2 linked regions of the Homo sapiens genome follow. The main gene of each other region encodes a partner of the protein of the gene in region 2 in a complex. Each region holds a gene or a part of one and is shown on either strand. Other genes may lie near its edges.

What was found.
Region 1: the proteins of GIPR (region 2) and GIP are in contact, whole or in part, in a cryo-EM structure (PDB 7RA3), measured with the Homo sapiens proteins. Residues at the interface, in NP_000155.1 of Homo sapiens: Gln30, Thr31, Ala32, Leu35, Tyr36, Trp39, Tyr68, Trp71, Leu88, Trp90, Arg101, Arg113, His115, Asn120, Gln130, Arg131, Leu134, Glu135, Leu137, Gln138, Tyr141, Tyr145, Arg183, Ile187, Arg190, Asp191, Pro197, Gly198, Pro199, Tyr200; in NP_004114.1 of Homo sapiens: Tyr52, Ala53, Glu54, Gly55, Thr56, Phe57, Ile58, Ser59, Asp60, Tyr61, Ser62, Ile63, Ala64, Met65, Asp66, Lys67, Ile68, His69, Gln70, Gln71, Phe73, Val74, Trp76, Leu77, Leu78, Lys81.

Annotation. Positions count from the first base shown.
Region 1 is NC_000017.11:48,967,178-48,970,777, reverse strand, and holds the start of GIP (gastric inhibitory polypeptide preproprotein), read left to right. Parts: upstream 1-2,181; 5' UTR 2,182-2,261; intron 2,262-3,524; 5' UTR 3,525-3,545; coding exon 3,546-3,600. UniProt on the Homo sapiens protein: Potent stimulator of insulin secretion and relatively poor inhibitor of gastric acid secretion.
Region 2 is NC_000019.10:45,666,006-45,669,946, forward strand, and holds the start of GIPR (gastric inhibitory polypeptide receptor isoform 1 precursor), read left to right. Parts: upstream 1-2,215; 5' UTR 2,216-2,293; intron 2,294-3,309; exon of another isoform or gene 3,310-3,471; 5' UTR 3,472-3,515; coding exon 3,516-3,587; intron 3,588-3,941. UniProt on the Homo sapiens protein: This is a receptor for GIP. The activity of this receptor is mediated by G proteins which activate adenylyl cyclase.

The DNA.
Region 1 (3,600 bases), on a different chromosome or scaffold from region 2:
GCTGGGAGATGGAATTTGGAGAGCTTGCTAAGGGAGGAGTTTTTCTAGATGGTGGAGAATGGGTGGGTATGCAGAGGAGGTTTCCAGGAGGCAGAGGTAAGTGACCCTGCTAGTCCAGGTACCTCTCATCCCACACGCACACTTAATTTCATGCTGGATCTGCTCCTAGGCTAGGGTGTTCACCTGGAAAGGAAGGTGGCCTTTATTAGGACCTGGAGCTGATAGGCAGAGCATGAGCTTGGCTGTTTATGGTCCCAAGTACCCATGGCGGCGGCAGAGGAGGAGCCTGGAAAGAACGCCTTGGAGGTCTGCCAAAAATGCAATCTGTGCCCTGCCCCTTCTAGACTGAGAGCCCCTGTGGACAGAGCCATGTGCTAAGTACTTGGAGAAAGGCAAAGGGAGTATCCCAAGGAGTCTCCAGTCTGAGGGGGAGACACAGCCCTTAGCCTCAGAAAGCCTCAGTGTGCTGGGGGAACATCGCCTCCAGCTCTCCTCCTCCTCTCAGAGAGCTCCCAGGCAGATCAGGGACAGAAAGCCCCTGCCTTGGAGTGGCTCCTGTATAATAGAGAGGCACAGCATAACTCCAGGGTCTTCACTCTGATAGAAGAGACAGGATGACATACTTCTCTTGTACAGGACAGTAGGACATATGAGGAGAGGGGCTCCTAAATCTCTATAGATAAAGTTGTAACTACCCCACCCTCCTGTGAGCCCCTGAGGTACAAACATGTCTCTTTCTCCTGCTTTATCCTGCCCCTGAGCAGGAAGACAGCTTGAATGTATGTTCTCAGTTTATCCAGCTGTCCCTAGGAAACCCCGATCCTTCATATTCCCTCAACATTGAGCCCTTGGGACACCTCTCTAGATAATGTGATGGGGGCATTGCCACATCACCAAAGCCATAGGCCACTGTCCAGAGCTGGGATTCAGATGACTGTGGACCTACTCTCTCCCACCCAGAAGTAGCCTGTTGCCTTGTGGGAGTGTCCCCCTGCCAGTTAGTGCCACCCTACCCCAAGTCTGTCTTCACTACAAGTACCCTTTTTTATTTTTATTTTTATTTTTTGAGACAGAGTCTTGTTTTGTCACCCAGGCTGGAGTGCAGTGGCACGATCTTGGCTCACTACAACCTCTGCCTCCAGGTCTGGGTTCAAGCGATTCTCCTGCCTCAGCCTCCCAAGTAGCTGGGACTACAGGCACGTGCCACCATGCCTGGCTAATTTTTGTTTGTTTTTTTTTTTTTTGTTTGTTTGTTTGTTTTGAGATGGAGTCTCGCTCCGTCGCCCAGGCTGGCAGGCAGTGGCGCCATCTCGGCTCACTGCAACCTCCGCCTGCCGGGTTCACGCCATTCTCCTGCCTCAGCCTCCCGAGTAGCTGGGACTACAGGCACCTGCCAACATGCCCGGCTAATTTTTTGTGTTTTTAGTACAGACGGGGTTTCACTGTGTTAGCCAGGATGGTCTCGATCTCGTGACCTCGTGATCCACCCGCCTCGGCCTCCCAAAGTGCTGGGATTACAGGCGTGAGTCACTGCGCCCGGCCCCCTTTCTTTTTTCTTTTCTTTTTTTCTTTTTTGAGAGAGTCTCTCTTTGTTGCCCATGCTGGAGTGCAGTGAACTCGATCTTGGCTCACTGTAACTTCTGCCTCCCAGGTTCAAGTGATTCTCTTGCCTCAACCTCCCAAGTAGCTGGGATTACAGCCGTGCACGACCATGCCCAGCTAATTTTTGTATTTTTAGTAGAGACTGGGTTTCACCATGTTGGCCAGGCTGGTCTCGAACCCCTGACCTCAGGTGATCCGCCCGTGTCGTCCTCCCAAGCGCTGGGATTACAGACGTGATTCATCGCGCCTGGCCTACAAGTATCCCTTCTAACTGAGGGCAACTGTAAAGGAAGTAGGGCATAGAAGAATAGTAGTGGGCCCTGTGCCCAGAAGGGAGGAGGAGGAAGAAAAAAGGGGGTACTTAGGGTACCCTACCCACAGGCAGGCCCCAGACAGCAGCTGGAGATAGCCAAATGTTAATCACCAATTAGCACAGTTCAGGTGGAAAGGGCAACTCTATTATGTGTAAAATGGACTTAATGTGGCAGGAGCTGTGGGCTTAATTTCTTGAGATAAGATGCTTTTAGGCTAATCAGCAGGTCTATGCCTAATATAAAGGAGCTGGGGCATGATTTCTTCAGCAGGCTCAGAAGGTCCAGAAATCAGGGGAAGGAGACCCCTATCTGTCCTTCTTCTGGAAGAGCTGGAAAGGAAGTCTGGTAAGAGAAGTGGAGACAGGGATGGATGAGATGACCCGAGAGCAGATGGATCTTGGCAACCCTGAGATGCTCAGCAGCCCTGGCATCTTAGTTTTCTCTTCCTCTATATGAGATGTGAGAAGATAGTCAGGTGCGGTGCCTCATGCCTGTAATCCCAATACTTTGGGAGCCGAGGTAGGAGGATCATTTGAGCACAGGAGTTCAAGACCAGCCTGGGCAATGGAGGGAAACTCGATCTCTACACATAATTTAAAAAATTAGCTGGGCATGGTGGTACATGCCTGCGGTTCTAGGTACTCGGGAGGGTGAAGTGAAAGGTTTGCCTGAGCCCAGGAGGTCGAGGCTGCAGTGAGCCACGATTGTGTCACTGCACTCCAACCCGGGTGACAGAGCGAAACCCTGTCTCAAAAAAAGAGAAAGAGAAATGAGAAGGTAGCGCTGATGTTTCCTTTATTTATTTATTTAGAGATGGAGTCTCGCTCTGTCACCCAGGCTGGAGTGCACTGGCGCAATCTCGGCTCACTGCAACCTCTTCCTCCCAGGTTCAAGCGATTCTCATGCCTCAGCCTCCTGAATAGCTGGGATCACAGGCGCGCACCACCACACCTGGCTAATCTTTGTCTTTTATGTAGAGACAGGATTTCACCATATTGGCCAGGCTGGTCTCAAACTCCTGACCTCAAGTGATCCGCCCACCTGGGCCTCCCAAAGTGCTGGGATTGCAGGCATGAGCCACTGCACCCAGCCTGGTCCATCTTTTGGTAAGATTCCATGTCCCTTCTAGTCACTAACTCCAGTGCACAGCACCCCTCATCTTCCCCCATGGTGTTGCCCCAGGCTCTTAGAAAAGGTCCAAACTGGCAAGGCGCGATGGCTCACGCCTGTTATCCCAGCACTTTGGGAGGCCCAGGTGGGCAGATCACAAGGTCAGGAGTTCGAGACCAGCCTGGCCAATATGGTGAAACCCTGTCTCTACTAAAAATACAAAAATTAGCCGGGAGTGGTGGCACATGCCTGTAGTCCAGGCTACTCGAGAGGCTGAGGCAGAAGAATGGCTTGAACCCAGGAGGTGGAGGTTGCAGTGAGCCAAGATTGTGCCACTGCACTCCCACCTGGACGACAGAGCGAGACTCCATCTCAAAAAAAAAAAAAAAAAAGAAAAAGGAAAAGAAAGGGTCCAAACCTCAGGGCTTTGCCCCTCTCCAGCTTTCAGAACCCCTACTGGTTGCTCTCTCAACATGTCCTGGCTTTTTTCTGTCTTAGCTCAGGAAATAACCTTGGAAGATGGTGGCCACGAAGACCTTTGCTCTGCTGCTGCTGTCCCTGTTCCTGGCAGTGG
Region 2 (3,941 bases):
GAAAGGGAGAAAGGGAGGAAGGGAGGGGGGAGGGGAGAGGGGAGAGGGGAGAGGAAAAGGAAAGGAAAGTCCTTTGCAGCAACACAGATGCAGCTGGAGGCCAGTATCCTAAGTGAATTAACAAAGGAACAGAAATCCAAACACCAGATGCTCTTACTTATAAGTGGGAGCTGAGCACTGGGTACACATGGACACCAACATGCGAACAACAGACACTGGGGACTCCTAGAGGGGGCAGGGAAGGAGACAAGGGTTAAAAAACTACCCGTTGGGTGCCATGCTCACTACCTGGATGATGGGATCATTTATACCCCCAACCTCCGCATCGTGCAATACACCCCCGTGACAAACCTGCACATGTGCCCCCTGAATCTAAAATAAAAGTTAAGGCCAGGCGCGGTGGTTCATACCTGTAATCCCAGCACTTTGGGAGGCCAAGGCGGGAGGATCACTTGAGGCCAGGAGTTGGAGAACAATATGGCCAACATGGTGAAACCTCATCTCTACTAAAAATATAAAAATCAGCCAGGCGTGGTGGCATACACCTGTAGTCCCAGCTACTCTGGTGGTTGAGGCATGAGAATCGCCTGAACCCAAGAGGCAGAGGTTGCCAAGTTGGCGCCACTGCACTCCAGCCTGGGTGACAGAGTGAGACCCTGTCTAGAAAAAATAATAAATAAAATGAATTAAAATAAATGAATAAATAAATAAATAAAAGTTGAGGCTGGGTGTGATGGCACATCCCTGTAGTCCCAGCACTTTGGGAGGCCGAGGCAGGAGGATTGCTTGAGGCCAAGAGTTGGAGACCAGCATGGCCAACATGGTGAAACCCCATCTCTACTAAAAATACAAAAATTTTAGCTGGGTGTGGTGGCACACACCTGTAGTCCCAGCTACTCGGGAGGCTGAGGCAGGAGAATCTCCTGAACCCTGGAGGCGGAGGTTGAAGTGAGCCAAGATGGCGCCACTGCACTCCATCCTGGGTGACAGAGTGAGACCCTGTCTCAAAAAAAAAAAAGTTGAAATTATTTTTTAATAAAATGGTGGGGCATGGTGGCTCATGCCCATAGTCCCAGCTAGTCAAGAGGCTGAGTTAAGAGGATCCCTTGAGCCCAGGAAGTGGAGGCTGCAGTGAGCTATAATTGTTCCAGTGCACTCCACTCTCATAAATAAATAAATAAATAAAATGTAAAAAGGATTGTATGGGCCGGGTGTGGTGGCTGTCGCCTGTAATCCCACCACTTTGGAAGGCCAAGACATGTGGAACACCTGAGGTCAGGAGTTTGAGACCAGCCTGGGCAACATGGTGAAACACCGTCTCTACTAAAAATACAAAAATTAGTCGGTTGTGGTGGTGTGTGCCTGGAATCCCAGCTACTTGGGAGGCTGCGGTGGGAGAATTGCTTGAACCCAGGAGGCGGAGGTTGCAGTGAGCTGAGATCATGCTTCTGTACTCCAGCCTCAGCAACAGAGGAAGACTCTGTCTCAAAAAAAAAAAATTCTATGTCTGCGAGTAACCACACAACTGCATACTGCGTATATTTATTTCATGACAATCCTTCCTTGAACCCCTGCTCTTAACGATTTTGGGGACCCAGTGGTGACCCAGATGTCCTGGCTCTACCCTCCTGGGCCACACAGGCTAGCAGGGCAACAGTGTTTGTGATGAAACCCGGTGATTGCGTGAATGTGTGGGTGATTGACAGTGTTGTTGGAACTGTGAGACACTGTGAGCGTTACTGTGTGTGTGCAGGAGTCCATAGCCCTGGGTACATGACTGTGTGTCACAGTGGATGACTGTCCACCTGTGAGTGAGAGACTGTGGCTGTCTGGGTGTGACCATGGGACTGTATGGGTGTGACTGAATGTGTGACTGTGTGAGTAACAGCTTGTGAGGTTCTGTGACTGTGCCTTTCCATGGCTCAGCCTATGGGATTGTGTGTGACACTGCATGTTTGATTGAGTGACTGAGGCTCTGGGAATGAGTGGCGGTGGGGGCGGGTACCTGTGGGTGGGACAGCATGAGAGATTGTACACACTTGGTGCAGGGGTCCTCAGGACGATAAGGACAATTCAGTAACTGCCCTCCCTCATGACCTTGATGACTGCCCCCTGCTCGGCTCTCTGCCCCAGAGCTCCCCGCTTCCGTTCCCTGTCCCGCCTTGGCCCCGCCCCCTCCCATCACCCCGGGCTGCCAGCGCCTGTCACCTCTCCCAGAGCCGAGACAAGGCAGTTGGAGGCAGCGGTGGCAGGGGCTGCAGGAGCAAGTGACCAGGAGCAGGACTGGGGACAGGTGAGGGCTCCCCAATCCCAGCCCATTCTCCCTGCCCCCCCTTGACCTCTCAAGTCTCTGGCACTCTCCCTCTCTGCTTCTCTGCCCTGCCTTTGTCTCTCTGTCTCTGTGCCCACCACCATCTCTGCTCATCTCTGTCTCTTGATGTCTCTGTCTGCGTGTTTCCATCTCTGGTTAGCTGCTAGATAACTTCTCTTTCCCCTGCTCTGTCTCCCTCCACGTCTCTGCCTCTTCTTTGTCTCCTAGCCCACATCTGCGTCTCTTTCTCTGTTTGTTTTTCTCTGGTCTCTGGCTGGGGGTCTCATTCTGTCCCTCCGTCTCTGCGCCTCTCAGTCTTTACATTTCTGTCTCTTGTGTCTGTGACGCCGTTGTCTGTCCTTCTGAGGCTCGACCTGAGATCCTCTCTGCTTCCGTCTTTCTCTACGTGGAGCCGCGGGGGCGCGGGTGAGTGGGTGTCGGGCGTTAGACCGATTTCCAGGCATCTGCACATCTAACCCCGGATCTGTCGCTTCTCTAGTCCCTAAGTATTTGGATGCTGGGAAAGGGTTGTTCCACTTACTCTGGGCTTTATCTACCCCCAGCGGGGAAAGTTTTGTAAGGTCAGGTTCCTATGTGTGCTAGAAAACCCTTTGGGCTTGGAGAGTGGGAGCTCGGATGGGCGTTTCAAGTTCTCCACCAGGCTGTGGGAACTCAGATGGGCGTTTCAAGTACCCCACTAGGGGGTACTGAAAACCTTCAAGTTTTTCAGTTCCCCATAGAAAAGGGGTCTAGGCTGACGGTTTCTACCCCCTCCTCTCCAAGGCGGTCCCCGGGTTCCCAGGAGTCTGTAGGTCCAGACTTCGGTGACACTGACACTTCCGCCCAGCGTAGCTCTAGGGCAACCGCCCGCTCAGCAAACACCCCCCCCTTCCACCTTTGCTGCCCCAACAACAGTCAGGGGAGGCCGGGGAATCACTTAAGGGGCCCCGCCCACCACCGGAGTTCCACCCACTCCGCGTGCCTCTCCCTCCCCCCAGATCATCACGCCTGGGAGTTGCGGGAGCGGGTGCGCTGCCTCGGAGTCCCGCGTGTATACGGCTCCCCAGCCGTCTGCCCCTGTGTGTGAATCCCTGAGGCGGGGTGACGCTGGGGTTGGAGTAGGAGGGCAGAGGTGCTGACCTTGCCCTGGGACCCTCCAGGCCTGATCGCCCCTGCACGAACCAGACCCTTCGCCGCCCTCACGATGACTACCTCTCCGATCCTGCAGCTGCTGCTGCGGCTCTCACTGTGCGGGCTGCTGCTCCAGAGGGCGGAGGTGAGGAAGCGAGGAGCCAGAGGAGCTCCAGGCTTGGAGGGAGGTATGGGGACGGTTTTAGGGCTTCCGTCGTCAGGGCGCTGTCGCTCACGCCTGTAATCCCAGCACTTTGGGAGGCCGAAGCGGGTGGATCACTTGAGGCCAGGAGTTCGAGACCAGCCTGGCCAACATGGTGAAACTCCCTCTCTACTAAAAAAAATACAAAAATTAGCCGGGCGTGGTGGCGGCCGCCTGTAATCCCAGCTACTCGGAAGGCTGAGGCAGGAGAATCGCTTGAGCCCGGGAGGCAGAGGTTGCGGTGAGCCGAGATCGCGCCACTGCACTCTAACTTGGGTGACAGAGTGAGACTCTGTC